7 linked regions of the Homo sapiens genome follow. The protein of the gene in region 1 purifies or fractionates together with the protein of each later gene. This does not show direct contact. Each region holds a gene or a part of one and is shown on either strand. Other genes may lie near its edges. The genes, in order: SLC22A16, SLC29A1, SLC25A46, TLCD4, ATP2B2, MFSD8 and GBP5.

The links.
Region 2: the proteins of SLC22A16 (region 1) and SLC29A1 purify together in Homo sapiens (affinity purification with mass spectrometry; 2 studies listed by BioGRID and IntAct, with this or other methods). This does not show direct contact.
Region 3: the proteins of SLC22A16 (region 1) and SLC25A46 purify together in Homo sapiens (affinity purification with mass spectrometry; 2 studies listed by BioGRID and IntAct, with this or other methods). This does not show direct contact.
Region 4: the proteins of SLC22A16 (region 1) and TLCD4 purify together in Homo sapiens (affinity purification with mass spectrometry; 2 studies listed by BioGRID and IntAct, with this or other methods). This does not show direct contact.
Region 5: the proteins of SLC22A16 (region 1) and ATP2B2 purify together in Homo sapiens (affinity purification with mass spectrometry; 2 studies listed by BioGRID and IntAct, with this or other methods). This does not show direct contact.
Region 6: the proteins of SLC22A16 (region 1) and MFSD8 purify together in Homo sapiens (affinity purification with mass spectrometry; 2 studies listed by BioGRID and IntAct, with this or other methods). This does not show direct contact.
Region 7: the proteins of SLC22A16 (region 1) and GBP5 purify together in Homo sapiens (affinity purification with mass spectrometry; 2 studies listed by BioGRID and IntAct, with this or other methods). This does not show direct contact.

Annotation. Positions count from the first base shown.
Region 1 is NC_000006.12:110,424,254-110,428,432, forward strand, and holds the end of SLC22A16 (solute carrier family 22 member 16), read right to left. Parts: intron 1,130-4,179; coding exon of another isoform or gene 1,103-1,129; exon of another isoform or gene 833-1,102; coding exon 620-832; 3' UTR 434-619; downstream 1-433. UniProt on the Homo sapiens protein: Facilitative organic cation transporter that mediates the transport of carnitine as well as the polyamine spermidine. Mediates the partially Na(+)-dependent bidirectional transport of carnitine.
Region 2 is NC_000006.12:44,226,123-44,230,301, forward strand, and holds part of SLC29A1 (equilibrative nucleoside transporter 1), read left to right. Parts: exon of another isoform or gene 1-45; intron 46-887; exon of another isoform or gene 888-917; intron 918-1,137; coding exon of another isoform or gene 1,138-1,191; coding exon 1,192-1,220; intron 1,221-3,267; coding exon 3,268-3,349; intron 3,350-3,466; coding exon 3,467-3,669; intron 3,670-3,784; coding exon 3,785-3,924; intron 3,925-4,179. UniProt on the Homo sapiens protein: Uniporter involved in the facilitative transport of nucleosides and nucleobases, and contributes to maintaining their cellular homeostasis. Functions as a Na(+)-independent transporter.
Region 3 is NC_000005.10:110,748,495-110,752,673, forward strand, and holds part of SLC25A46 (mitochondrial outer membrane protein SLC25A46), read left to right. Parts: intron 1-4,179. UniProt on the Homo sapiens protein: Transmembrane protein of the mitochondrial outer membrane that controls mitochondrial organization.
Region 4 is NC_000001.11:95,144,639-95,148,817, forward strand, and holds part of TLCD4 (TLC domain-containing protein 4), read left to right. Parts: intron 1-4,063; coding exon 4,064-4,153; intron 4,154-4,179. Other genes in the region: TLCD4-RWDD3 (TMEM56-RWDD3 protein), read left to right, coding at 4,064-4,153.
Region 5 is NC_000003.12:10,495,036-10,499,214, reverse strand, and holds part of ATP2B2 (plasma membrane calcium-transporting ATPase 2), read left to right. Parts: intron 1-4,179. UniProt on the Homo sapiens protein: ATP-driven Ca(2+) ion pump involved in the maintenance of basal intracellular Ca(2+) levels in specialized cells of cerebellar circuit and vestibular and cochlear systems.
Region 6 is NC_000004.12:127,955,055-127,959,233, forward strand, and holds part of MFSD8 (major facilitator superfamily domain-containing protein 8), read right to left. Parts: intron 2,539-4,179; coding exon 2,447-2,538; intron 1-2,446. UniProt on the Homo sapiens protein: Outward-rectifying chloride channel involved in endolysosomal chloride homeostasis, membrane fusion and function. Conducts chloride currents up to hundreds of picoamperes.
Region 7 is NC_000001.11:89,255,486-89,259,664, forward strand, and holds the end of GBP5 (guanylate-binding protein 5), read right to left. Parts: 3' UTR 704-4,179; downstream 1-703.

The sequences.
Region 1 (4,179 bases):
TTTTGAGAGGGCATTTCTGAATAAGACTTGTTTTTAGAGCTATGATTCTCATAAGAGGGGAAAAAATATCAGAAATAGAATCTGCAAGGAGCTTTGTCAAAAGAAATGCATTCTCACATGCCCCTTCTTTTGGGAAGCCGTGGAGGGGTGGCACTGGCGGGATAGAAATAGGTGAACTCCGGGAGGCTGAGGCAGGAGAATGGTGTGAACCCGGGAGGCGGAGCTTGCAGTGAGCCGAGATCCCGCCACTGCACTCCAGCCTGAGCGACAGAGCGAGACTCCATCTCAAAAAAAAAAAAAAAAGAAAAAAGAAAAAAAAGAAATAGGTGAACTCCCTCTGGCATGCATGGTAGGGGGGTGGTGGGGAAAGGTTGAGAATCAACTACATAGAAAAACAAATGTTGAAAAATATTTTGCAGCAATAAGAAAGCAGTTTTTAAAACTGAGAATTTTCATCTTAGTTTTTATTTCTTTTATAACATATTTGCTTTAAAATTTTCTTACAAAATTTATTAAAAAGACATACAAACAACATATGGGAGATGAGAATAAGATTCCTCTAATACAAAGGCATTAGGGTAAATAATATTTCAGGTGCTAGACAGCAGGCATGGCACATTTATTCACCAAGACCAGAATCCCTGGGGGTAATCGCTTCCGTTTTTTCCAGCCCACTATTATTAGTTGTGAGAAGTAATTTGCTTGACTTGCTTTCATTCTCTGACTCCAGTTTTGCAGCCTCCTCCCAAGTAGTTGCTAGCCGTTTCCCAAGGGTTTCTGGAAGCTTTAGTGTTAACACTCCACTCAGGAGGGCCATAGTCCCAACAAACAACTAGAAGGAATTAAAAATAATGATAAGTGACACATCAAGAAAGGAACGAACCCTTCGGAGAATAGAATTTCCTAACTGTTTTCAGAGGGTAATGGATTTGAATTTGACATAACAGTTGTCACTGTGATTACTCGGTGAGATCTTTGGTTACTTGTGCTGGACTTCGAGTTCTTTTCCTCATCAACGAGGTTTAATCTCATCACTCACTCATTCATTCCTTCATGACCCACCATGGAGTGCCTCCTTAATTGCCAGCTACTGCCTGCATTATTACTCCTGAAGGTGCTGTCCTAGGAGCTGTGGTCAGAAAGAAAAAAGACACTTACCCCATCTTTCCAGACCCCAGAATCTTGTGGAGAAGACAAGTAACTGAGCCCTGGGTCAGGACATGCCAAGCAGGGACTGTCTTAGTCAACCCTGTCCCTGCCCCAATAATCAGTACACTATCAGGGTTCAGTAAATGATAGGGAATGAATGAATGAAAACAGGTTTCAATCAACCAGAATCTACGGAATTTGGGGGAAGCTAAACAAAGGCAGTGAAAACAAATTGCTACTTTATGGGGCAGGGATCCATATAATTTCCTATACAGTTCGGTGTGATTTCTTTATTTTCCAGATTTTGACACATAAAAGGCAGCCTTTTAGACTAGCGCCAAGGCGTTTGCTTTTAAAAATGCAGGTCACATTAAAAATTAAAGTCTGCATATCTATTCTCTGTTTATCATCATGAAGATGCTGGGTGGTTTTTATTAACAGAGCTAAATCTCTATACAATCCGTAAAAACACAATCTGTCCTTACTTAATTCAAACTCCTTTAGCAAAATATATTTGCTGGAAAGACCCTATAAAAATAAATTAAGGTGTGGCTTTTCTGATAAATCTACACACTTGGTATGTTTATAGCCTCTGAAAATGAGAATCATAAAATACATAGAGCAAGTGTGAAGTGATGCCAGATCACATCCATAACAGACGAGACCTGGGAAGGCAGTTTTTCATTTTGTTTTGCAGAGCACTGATAACCTAATTCTTAGAAATATACGAAATATATGAGTAAGCTTAACCCAGACGCAGTAGCAGAATTTCAAGTGACATTCCAAAGGAATTTTAAAGACGTTTTCTGGTCTCTCAAGACACGGCAAGTATATCCAGTGATCTAGAAACCCCAGAAGAGCCCTAAGTCAGGATCTGAAAAACACTGAGGAAGTCTAAAAGCAAAATAGAATCAAATGGAAGATCCAGAACAGAATGGAATTTTTCTTCTTAGCTTGGTAGTAAGCCTAGTCAGGCAGGAAACAAATCATACCTCTCCACCTCCTCCTCACTCCTGCTTCCCTGACCAGCTCCCCACAATCCCCCAAACCCCAAACCAAACTTTGAAATAAGTCCCCCCTTTCCCACCCCTCCCTCCTCCTGGAGGGAGGCCAGGCGGATCCTTTCACACTCTCCAGACCCCACTGCCTCTCACCTCCTCCTCAGAGATCTCCCTCCATCCATCGTCCAACCTCCTTCTCACATATTTTTGATCTTTTCCTTTCTGCTGGCTATTTTCCCTTGGCAAAAAGAAAAGCTCTCAAAGGGCTGGGCATGGTGGCTCAAGCCTATAACCCCAGCATTTCAGGAGGCTTGAGGTGGGTGGATCACCCGAGGTCAGGAGTTCGAGACCAGCCTGGCCAACATGGTGAAACTCTGTCTCTACTAAAATTACAAAATTAGCCGGGCGAGGTGGCACATGCCTGTAATCCCAGCTACTTGGGAGGCTGAGGTATGAGAACTGCTTGAACCCAGTAGGCAGAGGTTGCAGTGAGCCAAGATTGTGCCACTGAACTCCAGCCTGGGCAACAAGAGTGAAACTCCGTCTTAAAAAAAAAACTTCTCAAAGACTGGGTGCAGTGGCTTACATTTGTAATCCCAAGACTTTGGGAGGCTAAGGCTGGCGGATCACGTGAGGTCAGGAGTTTGAGACCAGCCTGGGCAATATGGTGAAATTCTCTATGAAAAATATAAAAATTAGCCAGGTGTGGGGGCACATGCCTGTGGTCCCAGCTACTTGGGAGGCTGAGGTGGGAGAATCTCTTGAGCCCAGGAGGCAGAGGTTGCATTGAGCCAAGATTGCACCACTGCACTCCAACCTCAGTGACAGAGTGAGACCCAATCTCAAAAAAAAAAAAAAAAAGAAAAAAAAGAAAGAAAGAAAGAAAAAGAAATGTTCTTGACCCTTTTATAATCTCCATACCCACATTGCCTGGGTACTTGCCACCTGCTACCTGTGTGGCTTTGGGCAAGTTACTTAACCTCTCTGCTCCTCAGAGTCCTTTTCTGTAAAATGGATGAAAGAATAGTATCTGTCGCAAACGACTGTTGAGAGGATGAAATTAAATATTACGCAAAAGGCACTTAGAACAGCGCCTGGCTGCAGTAAGTAGCCAATACATGTAAGCTCTCATTACTGCATGCATATATATATATATTCTTAGCTTGGTAGTAAGACTAGTCAGGCAGTCGGGTTCAAGCGATTCTCCTGCCTCAGCCTCCCGAGTAGCTGGGACTACAGGCACGCACCACCACGCTCGGCTAATATTTGTATTTTTAGTAGAGACGGGGTGTCGCCATATTGGCCAGGCTGGTCCCAAACCCCTGGCCCCCCAAAGTGTGGGATTACTTGTGTGAGCCACCGCGCCTGCCCTACTGCTATTATATATTGAAAAACAAGATGTTTCTTAATATTCCATCATTACTGCTGTTGTATCTTTTAAATCACCATACCTGGCATTTCCCCACTCCAGCCCTTCTCTTCGGGACTGGTGGTGATTTGCTCTCCTGCCCTTCCCACCAGACTGTACATCTCTCAAGACAGGCTATTTCTTTCATCTGCTCCTTAGCACCTAGCAGGGTGGCTAGTTCAAAACCAACACTCAGTCAACGATTGCCAAATGAGTTAATGAGCACATAAAAAGCTAATTACGTGTCCACCTTTTTTAGATTACTAGAAAATAATGGTTAATAACAAAAGCATCAGAACGAGTGATTTTTCATGTGCCTCTTTTCAAAAGAGAAAATATAAACATCTTCCAGATCAGAGTTTTCATTTCTCAAAATGAAAACACTGGCTCCCCAGGCAGTTTGACATCCATAAACAAGTTTAATGGGAAATCTGATTTTTTTTTTGACTCATTACAAACAATAGGTAATACTCCTTAGATCCAAAGGAAGCACATTCACAGACTACTTCCATAAATATACACCACACCCTGTGGCCAGAGCTGTCTTAGAGAAGGGATGGGCCACTCAGGGACAGGCTGGACAAGGAGCTGACTGCTCTGTGCTCACTTTTGTATAGATTG
Region 2 (4,179 bases), about 66 Mb from region 1:
GGCTTGCTCTGCTCTGACCCTTCTGCTGGCCAGTCTGGGCACCTGGTGAGTGCCCAGAAAGGGAGGGAAGGGAAGCTGTCCTTTCACCCCAAACAGCAAGGCCTGGGCCCAGCTAGGCCTGAGTGTGGGGAATGTGTCAGTGCACATCTGCCTGGCTTCCCATGCCACCCAATGGGAAAGCTGTTTAATCTGCTGGTGCCAGGGGGTCTCCCCCTACACAAATGGGGAGCAGGAGAGGGACGCTGAGGCAGAAGGATAGGTGCTTTGGGATCCACCCCTCCAATCTTCTTTTCAAGGTCACTCTTAGAAAGGGGAAGCGGACAGGAGCCTGTGACAGAGAGGAACTAAGGGAGGACTAGGTGACCCTGGGGTCGGGAGGGGGGAGGGGGAAGGGCTGTGCCCCCACATCCATTATGAAATATTTTCTTGGAAAACCGGCCAGCAACTAGGAAGCCCCTGGGCAGTGGCTGGAAAGAAAGGTTAAGGTGCCAACAGCAGAGAGACTGGAATCTGGGTTGCCTTCAGGAGAGGACAGCCCCACTCTAGCCATGAATCCAGGGGCTCCCCAGGGAGGGTGGAGAGACCAGACTTGCAGAGAGGGGCCTGGGGAGCCTCTGGTTTGACCTCAGTCATCATCGATGTTGTCGCAGCTGCTGCAGATCTGCCTGTTCCGTGTCCTTCCTCCTCCTCCCCCGACCTCTTTGCTGTGTCTCCTCCATTTGTCTCCCTCCTTCCCTTGTCATCACTGTCCCTGACCCCTCTCGTCCTCTTGCCTGCCTTCTTTGACTGTCTTTCCCTCCCTCCCATCATCTTTCCTCCTCCTTCCCTCCTGCTCTCCACCCTCCTGTTTCCCAGCTTATAAACTGCTTCGGCTGCTGGATAAAAATAGCGGTGGCAGCGGCCAGGCCGGGAGCCAGGTAGAGTCTGAGCAGGCAGGGGGGCCGCGCAGGACTGGCCTGCTGGGCCAGGGGGCTGGGTGGGGGTCAAGTTGAGTCGTCCTGAGGGGCAGGGTGCAGAGGGGGTCTTACTGGACTCCTCCACTGGCCTGTTCTGTCAGCCCTGCCCCCTCTCCCCCTAAGAGCCTGAGGAGGCCTATGGCAGGGCCAAGACAGGGCCTCACACTGTTCCTGCCCCCAGCAGGCCCCTGAGGGAGGGAGCTGTCAGCCAGGGAAAACCGAGAACACCATCACCATGACAACCAGTCACCAGCCTCAGGACAGGTAAGGGGTAAGGGGCTGGGCTGTGGATCCAGGGAATGGGTTTTCAGGGAGCTGGGTGTGGTGTCCTTTGGAATTGGGGGTTGCCATTGCTGGCTGGCCTTCCAGCCAGGTAGCTATGAGTCAGGTCTGCATCAGGGGTGGGGACCCCGTGTGCCTTGGCTGGGTGCTGGCTGGGGTGTCTGCGGGAAGGGCAGGGTGCGTGGGCAGCAGTCCTTCCCTGGCCTGTCTGTGTTTCCACTGTTGCTCTCCAGCCAGTTAGCGGCTTTCGGCTCCTCCCGCCACCACTGTGGGGAGATACTTGGCTGCACCCCTCCTTCCAATGCACATCTGGCAGAACTGCCCTGGGGCCTCTGCCTTAGATGACCTGGCCCACCCTGGTTCTTGATCTGATCTTCCTCTCAATTCCCTGCCTCTGGAGCCTGTGAACTCCCAGTCAAGTTAGACTTGCAGTTATGACTGTGAATATGTATTTTGGAAGAAGAGGCTGTAGCTTAATTCAATTTCTCAAAGGGATCTGGGACCCAAGAAGGCTGAGGAAGTGATCCCTGAGATCCAAAGCTCCTTCAAAGCGTCAGGCTCTGTCCTGCCCTCCAACTCAGGCCCCAGAAACCCATCACGTCTGCCCTACCCACCCCATCTCCCTCCTGTGCCAAAGGCTATGAAACTAGGCCACTTTTGCCTGTGGGGGCTTTGAGCATGTAGCTTAATCTCTCTGGGACTGTTTTTCCACCTGTAAAATAAGCTAAAAGTATCTACTTCCCAGGAAGTGGATCTAGAAGTAAGGGAATTTAAGGAGGCATGGCAATAAGTCCAGGCCCCAGGTTGCTTCCCTGCCTCCTGTGCTCCATTCCCAGGCTGCCTGCCCATTCTGTCCCCACCTCCGCTCTCCTGTGGGCAGTTCCCTGAAGGCCTCGCCGGCTCCATTTGCCTTATTGCACAGCTCAGTCATTTCCCAGCGTACTCCCCCCAACCCCGATCCTCTGTCCTATGTGACTTTGGGAGTTTTTCCTTCTGCTCTGGGCCTCCGAACCAAGCCTTTAGCTTCTCCAAGGGAAGCATGTATGTGAGGGGGTTGGGGGGGCTGCAGTTGCATTAACTCGGACCTGCTCACGTGGTGTGCTCACCACGCCATCCCTGTATGAGGCCTGCCAGCGGTCCAGGCTCCTGCACTCTGGCCAGGCCTGTCTTCTCACTGCCTTGGGCTTTATCCCTGCCATCTCTGAAGAGAGCTGGTGTTGGCTCTGGGGAGGGTGTGCAAACCCAACTGGAGATCTACATGGGCCGGGCTGGGGTTACTCAGCTTTCAGGCAAGGCCTATCTGGGAGAAGCTGGCGTGACCCGGAAGGGCCTTGAGGTATAGGGCTTGGGGCATTGCCCTGGCCAAAGGTGGACAGTCCTTATTTACACCCTGAGGCCCAGATGGCCTCCAGTGGCCCCATACCTCCTGGCCTGCCCTGGGTGGTATGAACTACAAAGTTCTATTTGGCCAGGAAGAAAATGGCTCTAAGGCCCTCTCTTCACAGCGGCCCTGAGGCACCCTGCCCACCTGCCCTGTAGGTCCAGAATAGTATGGGAGTTTCTTAACTTCAGAATCCTCTCTGGGGAGTAACACAGTCCCTGACCAGACAGCATAATTACTTCCAGCCTGCCTGGTGGGAGTGGAAGACACTTGCTGCTTGCTTTCTCACTCATCCACCCACCCCCTGCCCTTCGGCAGGATTTCCAAAACCATCTCCGGATGTGTGGGTCACACTGGTTCCCAGCCTGCAGAGTCCCCCGAGCCTTCCAGGGCTGATAACCATGGTCCTGTCAGCCATGCCATTCAGTCCTATGACCCTGACCCCATCCCCACCCCAAATTCCAACGAGCAATGTACCCTTTTCTCCCCCCACACCCATAAGAGGACACATGCAAACGGACACAAACACAGACGCCCTGTGCCCTGGGACCTAGAGAGACTGACAACGGACAGGGGCTTTCCTGGGGCTCATTGTGGAGTGGGGCAGGATGGTGCGTCATTTGGCCCATCTTTCCTCCTCCATTGCAGATACAAAGCTGTCTGGCTTATCTTCTTCATGCTGGGTCTGGGAACGCTGCTCCCGTGGAATTTTTTCATGACGGCCACTCAGGTGAGGCTGGAGGGACTGGGCTCCATGGGGCAGTGCCCACTGTGCTTGCAGGATCTGACTCTGTGCTGGTAGGCACAGGGAAAGAGATTTCAACACTCCTCTCTGCAACCCCTGCAGTATTTCACAAACCGCCTGGACATGTCCCAGAATGTGTCCTTGGTCACTGCTGAACTGAGCAAGGACGCCCAGGCGTCAGCCGCCCCTGCAGCACCCTTGCCTGAGCGGAACTCTCTCAGTGCCATCTTCAACAATGTCATGACCCTATGTGCCATGCTGCCCCTGCTGTTATTCACCTACCTCAACTCCTTCCTGCATCAGAGGTGAGTGCCCACCCCCTCCCCAGCCCCCAGCCTGACCCTCACTGTGTCCTGCACCCCCTTGGCTGAGCCCCAGCTTTGCCCACTTGTCTCTGCCACCCTTGGCCTCTCCCGGCAGGATCCCCCAGTCCGTACGGATCCTGGGCAGCCTGGTGGCCATCCTGCTGGTGTTTCTGATCACTGCCATCCTGGTGAAGGTGCAGCTGGATGCTCTGCCCTTCTTTGTCATCACCATGATCAAGATCGTGCTCATTAATTGTAAGCTGGGCCAGGAGGGGGCCTATGGGAGGAGGCATGCCCAACTACCCCCACTCTTTTTTCAGACCCAGCGTTAGCCAGAGAGAAGCCCAGCCTCCGCCTGGAGGGAGTGGATGCTGTGAGCAGCTGGGATTCAGAGGCCTGAGTGGGCCTGGACCAGGGCTGGGAGGGGGCAGAGAGAAGGGCAGCTCAGCCTCAAGGCTCACCAAGAGTAAAGTAGGAATGACAGGGATCTGTCTTCTTGGGCACCCCCAA
Region 3 (4,179 bases), on another chromosome or scaffold:
AAATACCTTGAATCTGAAAACTTGTCTGAAGTAACTAAAAGAAAAAACAAAGAATAAAATTAATTATATATTATTAAATTAGTATGTGATAAAGAAAATGTGTCTTGGCTTAGTATCTATTGAGATGTATCTTTCAGCTTCTACTGCTATGTGCCAGCAACTGCCAGCTGAGGAACAAATGTGGGTATGTGAGCAATTCCCGCTCTTTAAGTATTCATTTAATGAAGGAGACACATGTAAGCAAGAAGAGGTAACATGTCCAATGTCACGGGGTTGGACAGTCTAGGTAATAAAAGAAGTGTCTTATGTTTGGAATATTGGGTATGTATGAAATTGAATATCAGGAAAAGAAGCTGAGGTGCTACATTAAAATACGATTGTGCCTTTTTAAGTTTATTCTCTATGGGTTTGGAATGTGTTTCTTTTTTTAATATATAGATGTTCTGATCAAGATATATTCAAATGGCAGTATAAAATAAATGGAGTTGTATAGACAGATTTATGGAGATCTATTGTAATAATCTAGGCGAGGCTGAGAAGGTTCTGAACTGTGGAACAGAACAGAAAGGGATGAGCTGGCTAGACATTTCTGAAGTATAGTCGATGGTCATTATGTTAGCTTGGTAATTGGAGATAGGAGAGAATGAGTTGTCAGTAGTGACTGAGATTTCTAGATTGGAAAATGTTAACCAAGATGGAGAATTCAAGAAGAAGAAAAAGTTGGAGTAGGGAAGAAGATAAAGAATTTATCTTTCAATAAATGAAGTTTGAGATTCTTGCAAGACATTGAGGGAGAGGGACATGTCTCATATTTGGTTGGAACCATGGATCAGAGTAAAAAAAAAAAAATAGAAAATTGAAGCACAGGGAGAGCTTTGGGTATTGTGGCATAAAAGTAGCAGCTGAAGCTTAGGATAGATGAAATCACCTAAGGAGAAAGCATAGATTAAATGAATAAAATGGACCAAGGACAGAATCCTAGGCATACATGTGTGCCGTGTGTGTGTGGGAGCGGTGGGAAGGGGGGTAGTTGGGGGAGATAATGAGAGAAATTAGAGAGGGCCTCAGACAAATTGGAAATAGCATAAGATGTAGGACAATCATGTTCTAGAAACCAAAAATGGGAGAATTAGAAGTGTAGATACATTTGAGAGAGAGGGTAGAGAAATTAGGGAAATTTGCTTTTGGGTCTCTCTTTTCTCTGTGAAGCAGGATACAGGGTTATTTGGTGAAAAAATGATAAGCATTGGGGTTGTAGTAGAAAAGCATGAGAGGAATGATACACATTTGGGACAGTCACAATGATGGGTAACAAAGGAATCTTACAAAGAGTATATGAAAGGAATGTTAATAGGTAATATTGGAAATTAGAAATTTTTAAGGTGCTATTTGGCATTACTCTGATTTTCTATATCAGCACTATATTTTTGTATATCATCCTATCGATAATGTTAAAGGCTTTGGAATGGTTTGTTAATCCAAATTTATTCTCTGGCAAGGTGAATTTTTTGCATTGTTAAAGAAGTGAGATAGTTGAAGGCATAGCTACTAGTGTAACGCATATGCCCAATGTTGGGATTTAGTCCTTACAGGGAAGGAAATGAAAGCAAGAGAAACTGATAGTAAGCTTTTTTCCAATGTGATTGCTTTTGAAGGACCTCGTAGTCTTGAAGTGCCTTAAATAAACTTTGCTAAAACGTTTGAAACAAAACAAAGATTAGAAAGGTCAGCAACATTTGGGCAGCTCAGAGTTTCTTGTTTTATTCTTTAAAAATCTGTATTTCGTTGTTTGGCTAACTATTCACTTTATTGCTTTTATATCACTAGATAAGATCCCAAGTTAGTACTTATAGTCAAATATTCTTGAAATTCTTTAACAAACAATTCTGTAAAAAAATAACAAAATGCAGGAAATTCCATTTGGTAGAGTGAAAAAAATTCAATGCAGTTGTTCCTCATATCTGTAGGGGATTGATTCCAGGACCCCCAGTGGATACCAAAATCCAGAGATGCTTAAGTCCCTTTTATAAAATGGTGTTGTATTTGCATACAACCTGTACATAACCTCCTGTATACTTTAAATCATTTCTTGATTCCTTGTAATACCAAATACAATGTAAATGCTATGTAAATAGTTGTTATTCTATATTGTTTAGGGAATAATGACAAGAAAGAAAAAAACTCTGTACACATTCAGTACAGATGCAACTATCCCTTTTTTAAATAAATATTGTAAATCCGTAGTTGCCTGAATCCATGTATGTGGAACCCATGGATATGGAGGGTTGACTATATTTGCAACCAGAACACTATTGGTTCAGGTCCTGGCTATTCCACTTTTTATTTCTGGGACCTTATGCAAGTAATGTTGCCTCTCTAAAGCAGAGATGAAGGAATAACATTAATTTCAGGCTACAGGGAAGAAAAAAGAAAAATAGGAATGGGAAGGCATAGGACTTTATAAAATTTTATCATCTAACTTTCTTACTCAGTAGACAGACATGTCAACTGAGTGGGAATATATTTTCATCATTTTGAATCTTTCCAAAGAAGACAAAATAGTAACCTCTATTGCATTGTTCTACTTGGATAATTTTGGTGATAAGGCCCACTCATTAATTCATTCATTTACTTGGCTAACATTTCCTGAGTACTTACTATGTGCCAGGTTCTGTGCTAAAAACCGGGTTTACAGTGAGGAAAATAAACAAAAGGTAACTGTTGCCAGGAAGCTCAGAATCTAATAAAAGTACATTCACTAAGAACAATAATTCCATTAATGAATAATTGCAAATTGAAATTTGTTTTCTGAAGCAAAAGAATATAGTTCCATGAAAGTATTAAAGGGCTAGAAACAGTGTCCCTAGTAACATGACACTTAAGGTAGATCAGAGTGGTAATTAGGAGGTACATACCAGTTTGTACAAAAATGCTGTTGCAGTGGGGAGCCTAGAGAATTCAGGTGTAACTGAGAGAAGCCTCACATGGCTGGAGCTCTGGCCAAGGGTAAGGGTACAGAGCAGGTGGGAGCCAGAACATGTGTGGCCCTGTAGGCCATTTTAAGAATATTGAAGAGGTTCAGTAAGGTCAGTGACATCAGATTTGTTTTCAAAGGGTCATTGTAACTGTAGATGAAAAGGTTGTATGAGGACCAAAGTGAATAAAAGGAGACATCTTAGTATTCTATTACAATAATAAAGGTAAGAAAAGATAGTGGCTAAGATCAGGGTGGTATCTTTTGAGATAGAGGTAAGTGGACAGTTTTGAAATATACTTAGGTCAAACTGAGGGAATTTGGTGATGCTTTAGGAATGGTAGATCAAAGAGAAGGCAGTATGAAGAATGACTTCTTGTATTTGGGCTTGTGTAACTAGTTGTCAAATGAAGCTGTTTTTTTGAAGTATAGTGTGAATATCTTTTAAAAAATTATTTATTCTTCTTTGGGCAGATTTGACCTTTCCTATTAATGGGAAGAAGGCAGAGTTTGTTTCTGTATCCTATTAATGGGAAGAAGGAGCAAACAAGGTCACAAAACATTAACAGCAGTTCACAGAAGCTACTACATGAGGAGGATGAGCTCTGAGGTCTCCTAGCCTGGGGTTTTTTAATTGCGTAACATTTACTAGGTAGAACAGGGGAGATAGTACAGATTTGCCAATATTTAGGGGTTTTTAAATACAGTTTATGATCAAATCAAAGAGAAAAACAGCAGATCTCTAGTGTTCATTAAGTCAGCAAATTTATAATTTCTCAGTAGTATTACTTTTTAACAAATTATATATTAGCCAGGATCGTCATGTGTGATCTCTTTAGCAGTAGATACTGCTAAACCCTTCCCTGTTCTCTCTCCCAGTTGCAGTGAGTTAAACCATGTGTCGTTCTACCCCCACAGTACCCTTTACTTAATTTACATGTGGCTTTTTTCAGACTGTTAACGCGAGGTAGGAGTTCCTGTAACCAAGGCTACCTGTGTGGTTCAGTCTCTCACAAAACCCATTTGGTTCAACTCCAACTTAGTTTTGACTCATCACACATCTGTGGTTATACCACTGTAAACATCTTGTAGTTTTCCTCCAACGGTTCCCTCCGAATTTGCTTATTTTAAACACACGTTATTTTAAACACAATGAAATCTTCCTCAAATTCAATAGATTTCCTTTCTGATTAATAGTTCCTGAG
Region 4 (4,179 bases), on another chromosome or scaffold:
CATCTATTGATATAGAAATCTGCTGGAGTTTTATTTTTTATTTTTATTTTATTTGTTTATTTATTTTTTTGAGACAGAGTCCCGTTCTGTCGCCCAGGCTGGAGTGCAGTGGTGAAATCTTGGCTCGCTGCAACCTCTGCCTCCCAGGTTCCAGTGATTCTCCTGCCTCAGCTTCCTGAGTAGCTGGGATTACAGGCATGCGCCACCATGCCAAGCTAATTTTTGTGTTTTTAGTAGAGACAGGGTTTCACTAGGTTGGCCAGGCTGGTCTTGAACTCCTGACCTCAGGTGATCCACCCACCTTGCCCTCCCAAAGTGCTGGGATTACAGGCATGAGCCACTGCACCCTGCCAGAGTTTTAAAAAGTTGGTTGCAATTTTTTTGTGTGTGTACAACTTATTAATCTCACAAGATTTCAAACACAAAATGGCTCTGATGACTTCTTCACGTGCTTTAGAGCATTTTATGTCCCCAAACATCACTGTGCATTTGTAAACCTCAGTGAGTCAGAGCAGCCGTGGCCTTATTTTTTGTTGTTGCTATTTAGTTGAAGTTAATACTAACCATAAAATGGATTCAGCAAGTCTCTAAAGTTTGCTATAATTATCTTTCATTGAAATTTCCTTTTAAAATTCAAGAAATTCTGTCAGTGTCTGAGTATTTATTTGAGAATGGTCATATTTGATTTGAAATTCCCTTTGAACCAAATTGTTTTGCAGGCATCTACTTTTATGATTCAGACTGTGAATTTAATAAGACTCTAGTTGTTTTTTTTTGTACTTTACAGTGATGTATCGGGTTCATACATGTCAAAGTTCTTTTCACCCAAAAAGCAAGAATTATTTCTCCACATATTTTCAAAAAATAAGCAGTATGATTATTTTGTCTTAAGACTAGCACAAAAATATTGTTCAAATGCATTATACTAGAGATACCATTACTTTAAAAAATCTTTTCTAACATATGAAGATAGATGGAATGGTAGGAAAGAGAAGGGGGTACATACGTTCTCTGATTAAATGTTGAACTATTTTCATTTCCTCTTTCCTGTGGTTAGGATAGGTAAAGGCATTTGAATGTTAGGTAGCTGCAAGTCAGAGAAATAGGAAAGGGTACAGAGAGATGGAAGCCAAGATGAAAATGAAATGAAATTGAAGAATATTTTGCATTATCTAGTCTTATCACTGCCATTCTATGACACAGGAAATACCATTTGGGAAACTGAATTTCTATTTGAAAAAGGAGTCTGGGATTATATAAAATTCATTTAGGTATTCAGTGGTGTTTTCTCTTTTTCTCAAGTTTGCTCCTGCTTCTCACTCCAGCTTTTTTTACAAAGGACTTAAGCTGTAAGGTGGAGAGTGCAAAGTAGGACAAGGAGGCTGTATTTTGAGTAAAATATGTATAAATGTCTTAAAATTCAGCTTCCAGTTTGAAACATACAGGTAAACACACATAATTCTTTCTAGTGATCAGGAAAGAGTCTCTAAACATGAGTTGAGAGTGGTCTGAGCCATCTAGTATAAAAAGAAATGGAGGAGAAAAAATCACTGGAAATGCCCATTTGAGAGACAACAGTTTAGTTAAAAGTGAGAAATTGTTGTACTGAATTGTTACTTTTTCTGAAAACGTGTATACTTACAGGTGCTACATCTTATAATGTAAAAAAATTTTCTTAATTACTTATATTCACTTTCTTACCTATCACATTGAAAGTCTTATTGTGTTGAAATACTACTAATTTTTAAATGTTTCTCTAAAATTTAGCTGAGTTATATAATTTCTGTTGGCAATATTTACACTACTTGTGATTAGTAACTTAAAATTGCTATTCTAAAATAGTCATTAATCATTTCCTTAGAGTGCTATCCCTTTATATGCACAAACATTTCTTTTCCACCCTCTTTGAAAAAAAATTGAAATATTTTATCTTGGGTAATATCTTGGAATTTCTTTTTAGATACTAAGGAATCTAAATTTTCCTTTGCTAGGAATCTGATTTTAAATAATAAAATATAAAATTTTTATTAACAGAAGTTTCTGAAACTATAGTATAGACTTTTAATACAGAATAGTGTATGAGTGAGGGCAGGGTATTTGTTTTTCCTCCTCATTACAGAGGGAGATATTTGATTGGACCAAGTAATATTTAACTTTTCTGTACTGAATCATACACCATTTCCATCAGCTGAGGGCTTAGAATGCTTTCCATTTACCACATAACATCTCAAAAGAGAAGTGAATCTGAGGCCTGAGTGTCAGAAATAAAAAGTTAGGTTTTTCAAAAGGGAGCTTTCTGACTATGGTTACCAAACAGTAAAACAAGTTTGTAAGAGAGATTATATATTTTTAAATTTTATATAATTTTTGAATAGCAATAGAGAGTGGGCTGTATGACCATTTAAATGGAGTATTTTATTTTATATCAAGGAATTTAATTTTTTTTTTTTTTTGAGACAGAGTGTCGCTCTGTTGCCCAGGCTGGAGTACAGTGGTGCAATCTCCACTCACTGAAACCTTTGCCTCCCAGGTTCAAGTGATTCTTGTGCCTCAGCCTCCCGAGTAGCTGGGATTACAGGTGTGTACCACCATACCCAGCTAATTTTTGTATTTTTGGTAGAGATGGAATTTCACCATGTTGACCAGGCTGGTCTCAAACTCCTGACCTCAGGTGACCCGCCCACCTTGGCCTCCCAAAGTGCTGGGATTACAGGTGTGAGCCACCATGCCCGGCCAAGGAATTTACATTTTTATCCTGTGCTCAAGGTGTGCTTGGCATGAAAATTATAGACTTGTAAACCAGATAAATTGGATTAATTATTCACATTTCAAAATGATTCTTAGGTATTATAAATGATACTTGGTCAATGCCTTTAAATTGGTGAGAATCTTTGCTTATTTAAAATATGGCTTGATTTAGCATGATACATCTATTTTGTAACACACTATTAGGTCAAGTATATTGGTTTCTAAAGTTACAATGAAATTTTCTGATACCAAACCTAATATTAGTTGATATATTTTACTTTTAAAGATTTGGGATCATATTGTAGAGAAAAATTTATTGCACACCAGTAATTTTTAGAGAGAAAACTTTGCTGTACCTCTCATTTTTTATCCTAATGAAGTTTCATTACTTGTGAACTTCTCAATAAAGATGTGAGAAATCTGAAATTGTTGGGTAAAAAAACTTTATTGTATGGATGAATACACAGTATCCTAAGTATAGTTCTCTAAGTAACATAGAGCTTGGGAATTAGTCACATCATTAAATTTATTAACAAGATATATTCATAGAAACTTATGGTTTTTATGTTAAACTTATTCCTTCTATACAAGAAAACTTGACCTGGATCTTGAGAACATTGTGCTTTCACTTGGGTATTTCTTTTAAAAACAAATTTTCCGTATACATTTATGGTCCTCAATTTTTCTATTTAGAAATGTTTTCATAATAATGATAAAGAGGGACTAATAATAGCTACCCTTGTTTTCTTACAAATTTGTTACAAGAATCAAGTGCAATAGTGCATGTCAACGTACTTTAAAAACTGAAGCCTCCCAAGATAATAAATCTTCATATCATGATCCATTCGAATTGTTTTAAGGATATGGAGTTTGTTAAAGCCAGTAGATCTGGAAGTCATTCCCAGCTGATTGGAGCAGGAAACTTATCCTGCATTGATGCTGTTGGGGCTGGAGCTTGGAGCCAAGGGTAGTGGCCTTGCCAGTTGCCATCTGGCTGCACAAAAGTCTGTCAGCTGCATCATCATGTATGCATTTATCTGTCTTAGAACTTTTAACCAATAAGTGATTCACCAGTTCTCTAGCAGGAAATTGTAGGCCTTGGTATCTTCCTCCTTCTTTATTCCAAAGTAAAGCTGTGGCCTTTGGATTTCTAAATGGCAAGAAATGGCAATTTTGCATTATACTCTCCGTTATACTTCACACCTGTATATAAATGCTTCCAGGTATAACTTGTTCAGAATGTTCTGTGTCTTGTCAGGATTAAATTTTATTGCAAAGAATCTAAAATCTTTGTGTGTATTTTGTTTAATTTCAGGGTAGTATCCACATGCCATTCTTTGGTGGTTGGTATTTTTGGCCTGTACATTTTCTTATTCGATGAGGCTACTAAAGCTGATCCACTTTGGTAAGCTGTTTCTTTTTCTAAGATTG
Region 5 (4,179 bases), on another chromosome or scaffold:
TATTTGTTGTATGAGGATTTGGTGAAGTAATGCAAAGGAAGCACTTGGCTCAGGGCCTCGCCAGAAATTGATGGAAAGTGGCCTCCTTTGTGGCATCAGAAAGATTTGAGTATAAATCCTAATGCCAGTGTTTACTACTGTGTGACCTTGGGCAGGTAGCTTTGCTTCTCTGAGCTTGACATCCTGATATGCAAAGTGGAGTGGGAAAAACCTGCCTCACAAGATTGTGCCACGAGATGATGGGTAGGTAATGTCTCAAATGGAACCCTCATCATGCCAGGCATTCGAAATATGTTGAGCTTCTGCCCTGCTTGTGGGCATCTTAAAGATGTCCCCAGAAGGGGCACATCCTAGTCCAAGGAGGGTGGATTTGATTTGGGAAAATTGGGAGCAGTCGTGCCATAGTGGAGCATATGGGATTGGTGGAGCCTATGGGAGAAGCAGTGAATGGATGACACCGTTTGGGGTCCAAGCACCATGTAGCTTTGAAGGAAGAAAGCAGGTCTCTGCAAGCTTCTGTGCTGCCTCTGAAGGCAGTTTCCTATAAAGTGGTGCCTTTCCTGTGCCGGCTGGGCTACTCTACCGGGCCATGTCTGGCTGCCCCGGGACCATTTTGTGGGAGCCATGGGGGCGTCATCTGGATGAACTCATTCTAGCCCAGCTCTGTCAAACACCTGCCTTGCAGGCCCAAGGGAGCTGTGGAGGCAGTGGGCGGGGAATGCTGTGGCAGCCATTTGGGGTGCCTCCTGCATGCCTGAGGCATCCACGCTGAGTGAGGCCCCCAGGCTCATCCGGAGCAGAGGGTGCTGGCCTCCAGCTCACTGATCCTTCTGAAGTTTTTTGATCTGTGCCCATGGGCAGGGCACGCCATCCTACGTGGGCCTGACTTAGCGTTGATGTAGCGCAGTAGTTGAGGACAACATCTGGGCCCAGGCTGCTTGGGGTCACATCCAATGCCTGGCCGCTGACCAGCTGCATGTCCTTAATCTCCAAGCCTCCGTTCCCTCCACTGTCAAATGGAGATGACAACACTGCCTGCCTCATCAGGCCGTTGTGTCGGAGACTGAACTGTGCGGATTCCAAGATATACATTTTGACATTTCTGAAGCCAGGTTGTGCCTGACAACTGGTGTTACACCACAGTGGAACCAGCCATGCCTTTTATTTCTTAAATATACGTAAAGTAGTGATACAGGTTAGAGTCAAGAAAATATGATAAATAAGATCAGTTTTATAAGGGGCTCAGAACAGAGCCACCAGGCTGGTGGGAAGAAGCCAGGATTGCCACCTGCCTCCCCAGCTCAGTTGCGGTGAGTCCCTCACTGGGTCCTTTGTGTCCACTCTGAAACAATCAGCAAAAGAACACCTGCTTGCCGGAGCAGCTGTGAGAAGTCGGCAAACTTTTGTGTGTATTACGTGACCAGCAGAGTCCCCATATGCAGTAGGTGCTTAATAAATGGCCGTGCAAAACAAACAGCAAAGACCGTAGTACAAGGAGGAATTTAAAGCATAGACTCTGGGATTCTAATTCCTGCTCCACCATTTCCATGCTGTGTGACCCAGCACAAGTTTCTTAATTTCTCTGTGCCTTAGTCCCACCATCTGTAAAATGGGGATAACAAAAGTGTCCAATTCATAGGATTGTTGTGAGGATTAAGTAAAATTAAAGTGCTTAGGACAGCCCTTGGCAGAAGTGTAAGCAATTATTATTTGATGAACTTTAATGAGTCTCTTCTAGTTCAATAAATGATACTAAAATAAACACTAGGCTCAATAAAATAATAGCAGTTGAGGCTGCACTTGCTTTATAGCTGAGAAAACCAAGGGCCAAGAGGCATGCTGGTTTGCCCAGGATCACACAGCCAGCTCCCAGCAGACTGGAACCACAGCCCAATGTCCAGGCACCAGCCCAATGCTGCCTCTTTGCCCATGTTGGTTCAGGACTCTTTCTCTTATGGAGAAAGCAGTTCTTGCCATGGAGAGGAGGGTTTCTAGAAGAAGCCACCAGCAGATACATCACCAGTGCTTCAGGGATCCACAGGGTAATTAGGGCCCTCATTAGAAGTCGTTTCTGTCTTCCCTCAATTTTCTGCCTGACCACCACAAACAGTGGAAGGGGCCTAACTGGGATGCCCACCCTGCCCACAGCTGCCCAAGGTCAGCAGAGCCTGCCAACCATCCTGCAAGCCCACCAGCCAGCACTCTCCTGGCCTCCAAGTGGCTTCTGCAGAGTTGACACAGCAAAATTCCCTCCTGGAGACAGCAAAAGCCGTGGCTGGCCCGTTGGTCCAGCCACCAGACAGGCTAGGGCCACAAAGTGGATTGGAGTTGGGGGGAGGACAAAGACCTGGGTGCAGCCAGCCATGACAAGCACTTCAAGTGACCTTGGACAAGTCACAGTCTCTTTCTGAGCATCAGTTTCCCATCTTTGAAACAAGCCTTTTGGAGCCAGATGGGCCCCCTGAGACTTTAAATGTCTAAAATTCGAAGCTGCCTGGACATTGCTGATGTCCAGGTCACGGGGGAAGGGGCGGGGTTGGAGGGGTGGAGCTAGTGTCTGCGTGTGGAGTGCAATGTGTGTGGATCTTGGGTTGGACTCACTAGGAGCAAGCATGAGACAGCGCTCAGGAGAAAGGGGCTGAAAGGAAACAAGGTAGGGAGAGAAAGAGATAAACAAGCGTGTGGCCTCAGCTGATCCCTTGGGGGATGTGGGGCATGAACTGCGCCCCAGGTTTGGCTCTGCCTTGAAGCAAAAAAGCTGGCCTTTCATACCCCATATCAGATAGTTATTGGCCACGGCTGCCTTCTGAGTGGGATGCTGTGTGCAATTGCCCGGGCAGGAGCTCCTGTTCTTCCCAGGGCAAGCCTGCAAAGAAGGGGCAGCCGGGAGCTCTAGCTCCCAGCAGCTGGGGTGTGGAAGCTGCAGACCGGTAAGGAGGACTAGGGTGGGCACCAACAGTGTCCACTCTGTTATGTGGATTTGGGATGCAAAGGTTGCTGGGTGCCAGTCTCTTCCTAGCAACTATCTGAAGGCAGCAGATTAAGAGCTCTTTAGGCCACTTCTAAATTTATCAACTTACATGACTCACTTCAGATTAAAATGAAGCCCTTCTCCCCATCCCACCCCCAGCCAATTTCAGATTTCTGAGCTCAGAGCATCCTGAAGAGGGCATAGAATGCAAATCAATAAAACCAGTATTAGCTAAGTATTTGGTGTGGACCAGGCTGTTTGTCGGGCTCCTTGCTGAGCTCAGAGATGAATCAGCTCCAGAAACAACTCCTGCTGGGAGGCGGAGGCAGCCCCAGGTAGAAGGTGGTATACGACTGCGGGTGCCCTGCCTGGGGGCTAGGCCATGAATAACTTCCAGGACCAAGACTCAGCCTCACCACCACAGTATTTAGAGCTTCCAGAGCCTCAGTTTCCTTATCTACAAAATGGGGTCAGTGTGGTGAAGAGTATGTGGCCTGGGCCACTCCTGCACTCAGGGAGTAGCAATAAAATTAAGCGAGACCTGGCACTGGGACCCAGGGCTGTTTCTAGGCACTTCTCTGCCCTCTCAGAGGCCTGAGTCTGCCCCATGACCTCAGGGGAAGGAAATTCTGAGCTGAGTGGAGACATCAGCTTCCCTGGCCCTGGGAACGTCTACAGTGGGCTTCACTACAGCCCCCGGGTAACCTGTCATAACCAAGACAGCTCTCGTTTAGCGAGCAATTTCGATGCTAGGGGCTCCGTGTGCAAAAGTTTCCTTTACTCTCACCACTGCGACTGGATCCATTTACAGATGAGCAACATGGTCTCAGAGATGTGGGATGGCTTGTCCAAGGCCTCTTGAATAGCCCCTCTGCTCCTGCCCCTTTGCATTGGACCTAAGAGGAGACTGAGGCCGGAGAGGAATTGACCAAGGTTGCAGAGTAGAGTCCAAAGCCCAGCACCCTGTCCATGGTATTAGCCCCTCCCCCAACCCTCCAGGAAAAAGGCGTGGCTTGGGCCAGACGTCAAACTGGGAATAGGGTGATTCATACCTGGCCCATGTCCCAATGCAACTGCCCACGGGGACAAGTTCAGGGTGTCCTTGAGACTGACTCTTCAGCAGCAACAGGCCTGGCCCCCAGGAATTGACCATGTCCTTGGTCTTTATCCTGCCTCCCTACAAGACAGCAGGTGACTCTTGAAGGTTT
Region 6 (4,179 bases), on another chromosome or scaffold:
CAGTATGGCAATTTTCCAAAAAATTAAAAAATTAAAAAGAAAATCATAATATGATCCAGCAATTTCACTTCTGGATATATACCCAAAAGGACTAAAAGCAGGATCTTGAAGAGATATTTGCACACCCATATTGACAGCAGCACTATTCACAACAGCCAAGAGGTGGAAGCAACCCAAATGTCCATCGACAGATAAATGGCTAAACAAAATGTGGTAGGCCAGGCTAGGCTGTAATCCTAGCACTTTGGGAGGCTGAGGCCGGTGGATCACGAGGTCAGGAGTTCAAGACCAGCCTGGCCAAGATGGTGAAACCCCATCTCTACTAAAAATACAAAAATTAGCCGGGCATGGTGGTGGGTGACTGTAATCCCAGCTACCTGGGAGGCTGAGGCAGAGAATTGCTTGAACCCCGCAGGCGGAGGTTTCAGTGAGCCAAGATCACACCACTGCACTCCAGCTTGGACGACAGAGCGAGACTTTGTCTCAAAAAAAAAAAAAAAAAAAATGTGGTATATACTGAAGGCAATCAGAGTATGCTACTCCAAAAATCTGCTGTTTTGCCATATTAATTATCTCAAACTGAAGGCAACCGAGAAATAGCAGATGCAGGAAGGGTTCTCTGCTCTCCCCCTTTCTGCCTGAATGCAGAGAATAGATTGAATTTTGTTTTGTTGTTAATTCTTTGAGGCACAATTGAGATTCTGTTACCTACAATCTGTCTTGGGACATTAAGACACAGGTATAATTAAGACTGTATATTTAAACTTAAGAAATTTTGCACTGGCCAGGCGGGGTGGCTCACGCCTGTAATCCCAGCACTTTGGGAGGCTGAGGCGGGCAGATCATGAGGTCACGAGATCGAGACCATCCTGGCTAACGCCGTGAAACCCCATCTCTACTAAAGATACAAAAAAATTAGCTGGGCGTGATAGCGTGCGCCTGTAGTCCCAGCTACTCGGGAGGCTAAGGCACAAGAATTGCTCGAACCCAGGAGGCAGAGGTTGCAGTAAGCCGAGATCACACCACTGCACTCCAGCCTGGGCGACTCCACCTCAAAAAATGAATAAATAATAATAAATAATAAAATTTTTTTAAAAAGAAATTTTGCACATCTTCAAGAAGTAGCAGAACAAATAATTGACTGATGGCTGTAAAGATGAAATACTTTTGGCCAGGTGCGGTGGCTCAGGCCTGTAATTCCAGCACTTTGGGAGGCTGAGTCTGGCAGATCACGAGGTCAGGAGATCAAGACATCCCGGCTAACACAGTGAAACCCCGTCTCTACTAAAAATATAAAACAATTAGCGTGGTGGCGGGTGTCTGTAGTCCCAGCTACTCGGGAGGCTGAGGCAGGAGAATCACGCGAACCTGGGAGGCGGAGCTTGCAGTGAGCCGAGATCGCGCCACTGCACTCCAGCCTGGGCGACAGTGCGAAACTCCGTCTTGAAAAAAAAAAAAAAAGAAAAAAGATGAAATATTTTTAACTGGGGGCGGTGACTCACGCCTGTAATCGCAGCACTTTGGGAGGCCGAGGTGGGCAGATCACCTGAGGTTGGGAGTTCGAGACCAGCCTGACCAACATGGAGACATCCCGTCTCTACTAAAAATACAAAATTAGCCAGGGGTGGTGGCACATGCCTGTAATCCCAGATACTTGGCAGGCTGGGGCAGGCGAATCGCTTGAATCTGGGAGGTGGAGGTTGCAGTGAGCTGAGATCGTGCCATTGCACTCCAGCCTGGGCAACAAGAGTGAAACTCCGTCTCAAAAAAAAAAAAAAAAAAAGATGAAATACTTTTGTGAGTACATGAAAGTGTTAGGGACTCTTAGTAGTTGTCTAGTTTCGTTTGTATGTACATTCCTTAATGTTATTTGTTTCTTTTCATTAAAAAATATTAACATCAAATAAATTTGTATACTTTTTTAACTGTTAGTCTTTCTTTTGTCAGCTTAATTCACAAGCCTTAAGCACATAGGAGAATAGAGGAAAAATTTCTCCTACCCTAGAATACATATAATGAACTATACAGCCTTTAAATAAAAGGAAATTATCACAAGTGCAACATGAACCAACTTGAGGACATTGAGTGAAATAATCTCATCACAAGAAAAAAAATACTATATAATTCCATTTATATGAGCTATCTAGAATAGTCAAATTCCAAGAAACAAAGTTTGCTAGGGCTTGGGGGATGGGAAAATAGGGAGTTGTTTAATGGGTATAGAGTTTCTCTTTTGCAAGATGAAAATGTTCTAGGGATTGGTTGCACAACAATGTGGATATACTTAAGGCTATTGAACTTAGATATGGTAACACGGTAAATTTATGTCACGTATTTTTTAGCACAATAAAGATAATTTCAGAGGCAATGAAAGTAAATGAAGTAAATGAAGTTAAAATATGACATCTGATCTGAATTGTTAAAATTATGTATTTCTAATACTTACCTACACTGCTGAGAAACATAGTAAGATATAAAATCCTAATAGATCTCCATCGGCTCTTATAATGCTCTTCAGTCTCTAAAATGTCCCATTCTCTAGGTGTAAAGAAGAAAAAAGTAGTATAAATTTATCTCATTACATGTGGATCTTAAGTGTCAACAGTTTTATTCTCTAGTTATGAAAATGATGTGATAGAGGTAGAATTTACCAATATTGATTCTGCTACACTAATTTATCTATGAATAAGCATTATTTTTTTGAATTTCCATGGATTGTATATATGCATTATTGTATACAGAAATTTGGGAAACAGTATAGTTTTAAAAGAGGAAACTTTTTGCAAGGCAATTATTTTGCTACCATTGACATGCACAGATTTATTAATCAAGAGTGTTGCAATTTGTAAAAATGAATAAATTACGTCAAGATAAATCAAATAAACTAGCTACAACTAGATCCCCCGTAGCTACTAAGTACTAAAAAATAATAACTGTCATCATTATAACATGCTCTACTTGATGACAGCAAATTAAATTGCTGCAGGAAGCTCTTTTGGCTTCCTACTTCAGAAAACAGGAATGATACCAGGAAGGTTTAACGTAACCTAAGACATTTTCAGCCCTGGGACCTCCTAAATGGGTTACCAGATAAATTTTATCAGCAGACCAAAGAGAGACCATGACTCCCCAGACTTAAGTGATCTTTTGGATAAGCGTCTGATCTGGACCAAAGGCATGTATACTAAGTAGATATCTTACCTCCATTAGGTGACACATGAGTCTATATACTCATTACATTTTCACACACACAATAGAAAGAGTTAACAAGTTCACCTTAACGTGAGCATTATCTTTTCAAATAATCAAGACATGCAGAACAGACAAAATGCCTTCTTATGTTCCAAGATTAATTTCTTAAAAATAAGCCTTAGAACTGTCAAATTAGTCTTCAAAAAAGAAACTTTTTTTTTTCAAACGTGATATGGTTGGGAGTGGTAAAGAGGAAAGGAAGAAGAGAAACAATGTTTTTAGATGTATTATATGCCAAACATATTAGTTCCTAATATATTTAAAGTGTTTAACACTATATATGTCATTCCATATAAACAAACCTCTTCTGAGTCAAAGGAGATAAGAAAAAAATAAAAATAATGTAGCTTACCTGAGAAAAATACCAGAACCCTAGATGCCCATACTTTGAAATCAATATACTAGAATTTGAATAAAAAACCAGATATATCTAAGTTAGGGAATCAAGAAGTAAATTATTTGATTCTAAAAAAATAATAAAATTGTTTGAGTGACTGATTTAGAGCTCAGACAAAATCTTTCTTCTTTTAATGACAAATGACAATTATTAAATATTGAAAGGATAAAATTAGAAAATAATAATTTAATGGCCACTTTCTATGCTATAATGGAAGGATCATCAATGGATGCTAAAACAACTGACTGGAAGATTGTTAAGGAGAGGATAGTCAAAGGCCCTCAAATGTCACCCCAGTGTCTGCTTACTAATTACAAAATGGAACATGAACCTTTATAATTGAAAGATATAGCAGTCACCCTCTTAACAAGTGGTCATGTTTGGCATTCCCAGTAGTGGGATGTCCTGGCATCCTGTACCTTTTGATGTAATGTAGTGGGGTGTTCTCAACATAACCCATGTGATATTCTTGCCAGAAATGTTTGACCAGGATCTATTTTGAAATAAACAGTCCATAAATCCAGAATATT
Region 7 (4,179 bases), on another chromosome or scaffold:
ACTGAAAGTGTATAATTGGATTGTTTGTAATACAAAGAGTAAATGCTTGAGTAGATAGATACCCCTTCTCCATCTGATCATTATGCACTGCATGTCTGTATCAAGGCATCTCATGTACCCCGTAAACATATACTCCTACTATGTACCCACAAAAATTAAAAATAATAAAAATTTAATAAATAAGAAAAGCTGGATATCCATTCTCTAAGACTTCAGTGTTACAGAGGGAATTTTATATATACATGCACAAGTGTATATGTTCGAGAATGTTCCGATCGGGCGCGGTGGCTCATACCTGTAATCCCAGCACTTTGGGGAGCCGAGGTGGGTGGATCACCTGAGGCCAGGAGTTCAAGACCTGCCTGTACAACATGGTGAGACGCTATCTCTACTAAAAATGCAAAAATTAGCCAGGCATAGTGGTGTGTGCCTGTAGTCCCAGCTAGTTGGGAGGCTGAGGCATGAGAATTGCTTGAACCTGGGAGGCAGAAGTTGCCTTGAGCCGAGATCATGCCACTTCACTCCAGCCTGGGTGATAGAGTGAGACTCTGTCTCATAAAAAAAAAAAAACAGAAAAAAAAAAGAATGTCCTTAATAACATTTCATAAGGTAAACCTGAAAATCCAGATATGTATTAATAGTAGAATGAATTGTTATCTTTAAACAGTAGAATATATATAGCTTACAACTACACACAATGAACTAGATGAATCTTATAAAGATTTTATTAACAAATGAAGCAAGGCATAAAAGAATACAAACAATGTAATTCCATTTAAATAAAGTTTGAAAACAGGCCAAACAAAATTACATTACTTAGGAGCTCACATGTTTATAATAAAATCCTAGAAAATAGTTGTGAAAGTTGTGATATTAGTTGGCTCTAGCAGGGTTGTCAGAAGTTGTCATATACACCTATAGAATTTTAGTAATGCTGAATGTATGTACCTGGGTTGTTACTTGTGCGTTCATCTTGTAATTTATTTATATTGAATATTGTACATTTTATGTTTTTTGTACTCTTCAGTATGTGTCACATTTAATAATTTTGAAAAACAGAGAATGGGATGTAACTAACTAAAATATTGCTTTGAAAGGGAACAAAGATTGTGTTGAAACTGACTGAGACATGGGGTCAAGAGAGATTTCAAGAGTTTTGAGTCACATTTAGAAAGGCCCTCTCCTCTACAGGTTTATGAAGAACATAACCTTGATTTCTTCAAATGCATTTTCATAGTTTTACATTTTATATTTTATCAATTTGGGTGTGGTTCCTTTTTCTTATTTTAGTGTATTGTGTGTGAGGTCTGGTTACAACTTGATCTTTTCCTATATGGCCATCCAGTAGTCCCAACCTACTAAGAAGTCTATCTTTACCCTGTATTATTCCTATAAAGTCTATTTTTTGGACTTTCTATTCTGTTGGTGATCGTTATACACTAGAGTCATTACCACATTTTCTCTACTTCATTTTAGAAATTTCTTTACCTGCTTATTTTGTGCTGAATTCTTATACATTGTTTTGAATCTATGCTTTTGATTTCAATTATTTTAGTAATTCCTTCTAAATTTTAACACATTATTCAGTATTTCTATGTTTTCCTAAGTATATTAGTCCATTTTCATACTGCTATGAAGAAATACTCAAGACTGGGTAATTTATAAAGGAAAAGAGATGTAATGGACTTGTAGTTTCACATGGGTGGGGAGGCCTCACAACCACAGCAGAAGATGAAAGAGGAACAAAGGCACATCTTACATGGTGTCAGGCAAGAGAGCATGTGCAGGGGAATTGCCCTTTATGAAGCCATCAGATCTCAGGCGACTTATTCACTATCATGAAAAAAGCACATGAAAACCCACCCCCATGATTTGATTACCTCCCACCTGGTCCCTCCCACAACACGTGGGCATTATGGGAGCCATAATTCAAGATGAGATTTGAGTGGACACAGCCAAACCGTATCACTAAGCAAGATAAGAAAGTACCACAAGATGGTTATTAATGTGGGTTCTAAATTCAAAAGGCCTTCTGTGGTACTGACCTTAATTTATTTAATTTCAATGCTTTAACAATAATAACTTTAATAATGATAACACTAACATACATTGATAATATTGTTTAAAATAACAATTGCCATAAAACAATACTAAATGTTTATAAGGTTTTTATGAGCAACAGGTGAATTACTACAGTGACCATAATAAAGTGATCCATAATAAATTCCAAATATCTCTTAGCTGGTATGAATAACTATTCATAGTATTAACTAATAAAGATTTTGTACTTGTTTCCTATTGCTGCTATAACAAATTATTACTAATTTTGTGGCTTAAAACAACAGAAGCTTATTATCTTACAGTTTTGGAAATCAGAAGTCTGTGAAGCTTAAATCAAGATGTTAACAAGGCTGCATTCCATCTGCAGGCTCTAGGGGAGAATCTATTGCTTTGCTTTTCATTACATTTAAAACTAGATCAGTTGATTTCACAACAGTAAGACAAAGAAAGTCAGAAAATATAAGCTACTTACTGGTAGTTTCAAGAAATCATCAATGTTTACCTTACAGTGCCTTTTCTTGTTCTTTTGCACCCAGTGACAGATCTCTAACCTGTGAGATCAGAGTATTTGGGGATGAGTGGGATCCAGGGAAGCTGGTGGGGAAGAATATCTGTGGATCACTAATGAAAGCAGCATGCCTCTCTGGTTTTTGGTGGGGGAGATATAATAGCAAAAGTTAAATTAGACTAGAAATCAACTACTTTGTAACATGGTCTAGGTTAACAGTAACAAGGTGTGAAACCTTAAATGACTTAATTTTCTGAGTCTCAGGATTTTAAAAAATTTCTTTAAGATGGGTAATAAAGATATCAATATTTAATTTGGAGATAGAGCTATTCTTTTTACTGATAACATTTCCTTGGATGATAAAATGTATTTTTTTCTTTATAAATTGCACAGCTTGAAAAGGTAATTGTAGGGTATTGCTAGACAAATGCTCAGTTGAATATGCTGGTACCTTCTGAACTTCAGTTCAAATCTAGAAATACTGCTGAGTAGCACCACATCCTATCTGATATGAAAAATTCCTCATATTAAAGCTCTTCAAAGAACAGTAAAAAGAGCAGACACTAAAATTTTTCGGCTTTTTTCTGTATATAAGTAAATCATATTTTGGGTGACTAAAAAAATTCAAGCTCCTATCATATTACCTAAGTGGAAAATTCCTTATATGAGTAAGTACTTATAAGGGAGAAAAACAGAGCTTTGTGTAATGTTTCTATAATTTAAACAAAAAAAATTTTACTGGAGATATACAAAACAAAGTAACAAAAAGTACATAAAAAGATGTAATAAAGTGTGTTTTAATTCTAGTCTTAAAGCAATTCTTAATCTCCTTAGGGAAATTCAGTCTTTCTCTATAGACTTTTAACTTTGAGAAAAATACAAACAAAGGAACTGATTTATGGTTTTCCAAAAATGTTTTTATGGTTAAAATCTGTACAAACAGATATATTTATATAAGTTACATATTTTAAGAAAAATCAGTCATTTTTCATATATAATTGCAAAGAATTAAGATCATTTAACTTTAGCACTATAAGCAAGCATTAAATTAAATGCACTCAGATTTTTGGCACATTATATGGCATTCCTTATACCACATATTTATAAGATCTAAAGGATTATAAACATATTACACATAATAATTAAGTCCAATATAAATTGTGTTCAGGTTATAAAATGCCCTATTTAAGTTGTGCTCTTGGTGAGGGTGAACAGAAAAGAAAAGGCTTCTTCTTTAGCCCTTAAGCCTATGACACAATTTCCATGCTGGTAATTCCTTTCATCTTCTGAAGAATCTCTATTTTATTATAACATTATTGGCTTTCAGCTTGGAATTTCTCTACGCAGATTGTCTATTGACAGTGCCAAGGAAACATCTCACTGTCCACAGAATAGCAGCCTCCACCCAGTTGAAAGCTGCACATTGTTTCCACTTTACCATTGGTACTTCCCTCTGATGGCATCCAGCACACGACCATTAGCCTGAGTGATGCCCAACTGAGCCCAGACTTTGGTCAAGTTCCTTCCGACTGAGCCCAGTTAGGGACACCCTGCCCCCAGAGGAATATAACAAGCCCCCTCCCCTAGCTGCCCTGCAGCTTATTTTTCGT